2 separate regions of the Homo sapiens genome follow, and region 2 is linked to region 1. Evidence: fine-mapped expression QTL. Tissue or cell type: thyroid. Region 1 holds a variant in brackets; the other region holds the start of a gene. All regions are shown on one strand. Distances are between the middles of the regions.

What was found. PIP is the estimated chance that this variant, and not a neighbour inherited with it, causes the effect. A credible set is the group of variants that fine-mapping cannot tell apart.
Region 2: it holds the start of ADGRF5, and the variant in region 1 is the best candidate, but not a certain one, in a credible set for the expression of ADGRF5 in thyroid (GTEx, PIP 0.54).

What each region holds. Positions count from the first base shown.
Region 1 is chr6:46,967,970-46,970,661 of GRCh38, reverse strand. No RefSeq gene overlaps it. Among named protein-coding and RNA genes, the nearest start is that of ADGRF5, 47 kb to the right of the region's middle. The variant A/C (reference allele first, on the strand shown) is at 1,230.
Region 2 is chr6:46,920,785-46,923,476 of GRCh38, reverse strand. ADGRF5 (adhesion G protein-coupled receptor F5) reads left to right here and starts at 1,539. Exons shown (of 21, transcript NM_001098518.2): 1 at 1,539-1,764. It overlaps LOC105375080 (a long non-coding RNA gene), which reads right to left and starts at 1,398. Exons shown (of 3, transcript XR_001744147.2): 1 at 1,042-1,398.

The DNA.
Region 1 (2,692 bases):
ATCAGACTCGATCTCAAGACATCAAATTAAAGATGCCCATTAAAAAATTTTAATTTGCAGGATCTCTGCACGGAAGTTTTCTGGTTTTTTTTTTTTTTCCCCTTGGAGATTGAGTCTTGCTCTGTCACCCAAGCTGGAGTGCAGTGGCACTATCTTGGCTCACTGTAACCTCTTGCCTCTTGCATTCAAGGGACTCTCCTGCCTCATTCTCCCAAGTAGCTGGGATTACAGGTGCTCGCCACCACACCTGGCTAATTTTTGTATTTTTAGTAGAGACGAGGTTTCACAATGTTGGCCAGGCTGGTCTTGAACTCCTGACCTAAAGTGATCCTCCCACCTCAGTCCCCCAAAATGCTGGGATTATAGGTGTGAGCCATCATGCCCAGTCTGGATGTTTTAACAAAGCAAATAAAACTTCAACTAATAAATTGGTTTTTATATTTTAAATGAAAGACAAGATGTTTTGTTACTACTGGTATATATTTTAAAATCTATTTTCAGGATCAGTGTTGGCCAATGAAGATACCTGTGAATGGAAACTCTTAGACTGTCAATAAGAAGAGCATACAAGATGCATTAAAAAAAAAAAAAAGCAAATAGTGATTTTTATTAGAACTGAAAAAAAGCTGAATAAATGAAAAACAGTCAATAGTATTTAAACACTGAAATAGAACATTGGGCATTAGGTGAGATTTTTTTCAAAAGAATATTATTGTGTGTAGTATGTACCTAAGCATAATGATGTTTTCTGTGGCAATAGCAGAACGATATTTACAGAAAACAATGGAAAATTTCTAGGTTAAGTAGAAATGCTTTTGAAATTTGATGTTAAAATGGCCAAACACATAAGAGAGATCAAAAGAAAGTGAAATAAATGATCACTATCTAGAATGAAGAATTTTAAAAGAAATTGTTAATAATGAGTAATAAAATAAGAATATTTAATACATAAAAATTGTAAAGGTCAACTAGATTCTACCAGTGATAAAAGACACATTATACACCAACTTTTATCATGCAAAGTATTCAAAACTACAAGATGAAGAAACAAGGAAGTTAAAAATTCCAAATGTTTCATTAGTTTTTACATCTGTTGTAAAAAGTAAGAATTTTCACTTTTATGAAAAGATGAAGAAACAACTTTCAATTTTAGGCATTGATTTGAAAGTTTGTTAACAATTGTGCTCAGGTGGTTGTTGAAGAAAAAACCAACAAGCCAGATGACTCAA[A/C]ATAGTTTGAATTTGTTACCAGGAGACAAATGCTTAACTTCTTTATAACTACGGTATTCTGTGGAACACTTCCAAGCCTTATGTATGATATTGTCTTTATCTGCCTAAAGATGAAAAACTAAAGAAACTAATATCAATTTTGGCCACCCAATCATCCTTTGACACATCATGGCAATGCTGACTGAATGCTGTTAAGGCAATTAGATTTAATTCAGGCAAGATATCAGATATATTGAAGAGTTAAGTAAAACAATAGAGGAGCTTCAAATAAACAGGAAATTATGATCTTCAACAGAAAATCAAATTAATTTTGAACATGAGTGGCTCATGTTTTTTTGTTATTTGGAATGCATTTTTTTTTGACAAAATCTTACAAAAATAAAAATCTGAGTTGTGCCATTTTACTTATAAAAAGGTTACAAATGTTTTTAATTTTTAAAACATTTTTCTAAATCAAAAGAAAGTGCATGTGATATGTGCAATGAAATAACATTCCAATAAAATATAAGTTAATTAGAACAAGAAAAAAAAATATGTACATGGATAAAAAGGAGATCCACACACAAATAATCCTGAAAGAAATTTTGGTAAGGATTGTTTTCTGGTCATTGTAGATCAACGTATGCTGTCTATTGAAGAGAAATTTGAACAAATGCTGCAATATAGTGCTATTTTCAGTTTTCTTTATACTATTCCAGCTTCAAAAAACTTGAAAGACATTTTAAAAATATTACCATGCATCTAAACTTTGCTTTAAGAGATAGTTAAAATCACGATATGTGATAACAATTATATTGTAAATCACGGTATTTTTCATGATAATGCTAATTTATCACAAGTGATTCTATTATAATATGTACACAAGATATGTAACATTTATGGCTATTTCTGAGTTTACTGTTTTAGAGCATTTACTGACGATTCTATAATTGTTACAATTTCTTGTGTCATTATAATTCTATAATTATAATTATAATTCTGTAATGACACAAGAAAGGCTTTTTAAATTGGCATTCTATCAACAGAACAAGATCTTGATTATAATAGCATTATTAGTAATTTTGTTAAAATTCAAGCAAGAAAAATAAATTTTACAAATGAATGTATAGTTTATAAATTATGTCTGTCTTCAGTTTACTAATCATCCAAACTTCCCTGGTTCATTAAGAGAACAAGCAGAAATGGTCAATTAATAATCACTGTAAGCCATCTTTGATATTTTGCCAATTTATAAGTCATTTAGTTAACCACTGCTTAACACATACCTTTTGATATTGTCATGATGGTATATTTGTCAAGGTAGGTAGTTGTAACATATTTTAACAGTTTATTAATACAATGGTCAGTTTTATAAGTGAAATTGGCTTGTCTATAGTCCACAGTTATTCAATCAAAACCTAATTGAGGGTTTGCTTTGAAAGTAACTTGTAGCTGTCATTTACTCTATATTCAGTTGATTAAGT
Region 2 (2,692 bases), 47 kb after region 1:
TCCTCTTCTTGCCCAAATACTCTGGTCTCAAGCCTAAGTCCTGCTGGTGGTTGCTGACTTGCTACAGGCTGATAGCATGACAAGAAGGGAAGGCAGCTGGAGGGGAGAGAGGATGAACTTGGAGGCATTGGAGCCCAGGGCTCCAGAGAACAACAAACAGTTACTAAACTCTTCCTCTTCAGTTTCAGCAGAGTCTATAAACTCAGTACTATTATTATCCCACTTTCACACACAATAAAACTGAATCTCAGGGCCAGGAGCAGTGGCTCACGCCTGTAATCCCAGCACTTTGGGAGGCCGAGGCTGGGGATTACCTGAGGTCAGGAGTTTGAGACCAGCCTGGCCAACATGGAGAGACCCTGTCTCTATTAAAAATACAAAAATTAGCCAGATGTGCTGGTAGGCACCTACAGTCCCAGCTACTGGGAAAGCTGAGGCAGGAGAATCGCTTGAACCCAGGAGGCAGAGGTTGCAGTGAGCCAAGATCGCGCCACTGGACTCTAGCCTGGGAGACAGAGCGAGACTCCGTCTAAAAACAAAACAACACTGAATCTCAATAGGGTCAAGTAATGTGTACCCGGCCACATATAATTGGTGGGACTAAAGCATCAGTTCCTACAGTCTGACTCCAGAGTCCTTTCTTTGACACTATGAGGAATTCCCTGAAGATACTCTTGGGACTACCTGCATGGGACTCACCCGAAGCACTTATTTCCAATGCCGATTCCAAGCCAGGCCTCATTCATCAAACTTTCTGTGGGCAGAGCTCCAGAGTAGAGAGTCAAACAGCATTCCCCATCCGTGTTCTGACCTTGGGAAGGGTTCTCCTTGGGCCTCAGTTTCCTCTTTTGTAAAATGAGGATCAGTGAGGTCACTTCCAGTTCAAAAATGAGCTGACTATAATTCATCTTTAAACCCAGCAACCTGGATGCAGCCTGCCAACCAGGCCTTTACCATATATCTCCTTATCTTTAAATATCCATGCTATTGAGCGGTATTTTAAGTACCACTAAATTTATAGTTTGATACACAAATACTCACAGAGTTTCCCTGGAAACCTAGGAGAACTGGACGTCCCTCCAATATGGCATTTTTGAGGTACAGCCCTCCCGCGGGGGAGGACTAAGCAACTTCTCTAGGTCTCTTCTCTTCTGCGGATTCTTTTTTTCTCTGCTTTCTTGGCACTGCTAAAGACAAAGAATTCATCGATAGTCTTAATTTTCCTTCCTCTCTGAAGTTACAATCTAATTTAGTGGTCATCTTTTAAAAGTTGAAACCAGACATCCTGTACTTCTCATTAGCTCTAACCTATGTTTGGTTTGCTCTGGTTTTGCTTTTCTGATTTTTTTCTTTGGAGAAAGAAAAGTGAGAACTAGGGGCATTGGCCAAACAAGTCTGTCCACTTGGTGGAGAGGTTTCCAGATAAGAAGGATCTGAAGGACTTCCCATGGGCGTGAGGGAAATCGCACACGCCATCCGGGGAAGAGGACCAGGAAATCACTTTTTGTTTTTAAAACAGCAGCGCGGCTCTCAGGGATGACTCTGTGAGACTGGGAGGATCATAGCTGGGGGAGGCTGAGCGTGGGAGCGGTGCTGCCAGTCCTGCCTGAAAACGCGAAATGAGTCTTGCTTGGTTCTCCCTCCACTGGGCGTGAGAGCCCCTGCCCAGGAGGCCCAGGACAAATGGCCCCATAGTGGAAACTGGGAAGCTTTTAGGCATCTGATCAGAGCGGGAGCCAGCCGGGGGACCACAGTGCTGGACAGGTAACAGACATTTCTCCTACTGCGGTCTGTCATTCTGTCTCCCTTTGTAGCAAGACCTCAGGGGCTCCTAAGTCACTTCTCTTAAGACATCTTCCACTTACGATCCTCTTTGCCTGCTTTTCTTTTGCGTAGGTGTGATATGTATGTTGGGAAAGTTAAGTATGTCCAGTCAAGAGCATTGTGCATACTGTTGGTCCAGTTAATGAGACTATATTAAAGGAGATGGCGTATCAAGCAACTAGCTGGGATCCTTTAGGATTTTCTTAATAACAGACTTTTTTTTTTTCAAACAAGTTCTCTCGTCCTTAAACCAGAAAATACTATAAAAACCAGTGCATTCATGAGCTACTGAGCTGCTGCTCTTGCCAAGAGCATTTCAGGGCCAGTCGGCCATTGCTGTGGTCAGGCTGAGGAAGGAAGAGGCTGCATCCCAGTAGCAGGAGGAGGGAGCCCTGGCTATTCGCTCAGCTTCGGGAGAGTCCTTCCAAAGGACAAGGGATGACCTTAGAAATGTAAAATGTAGGCTGCAGCCTCCCACACAGGACTGAGGGGAAAGGAGTTTGTAGTCAGCATTAGGAAGGAGGTCAGTAAAAGTGCTGGGGCTTCAGGGCCAGGCCGACTTGTTTTGAAAGGAGCAACTCTATGATGTGCGGTTTGCTTAAACCATGTTTTCTCATATTTCAGAAAGCCAGGTCATGCCACTTCACTACAGCATTTTTTCTTTCATAAAGGGCTAACGTAGTTGGTTTTTCAATGTAGGTTATTTTTGAATTACACAGATAATACTTGACTATATTCTTATCGTAAAAGAATATCTCTAAATAGATTTTATTTTTATTTTTATTTTTTTGAGATGGAGTCTTGCTCTGTCGCCCAGGTTGGAGTGCAGTGGCACGATCTTGGTTCACTACAACCTCTGCCTCCCGGG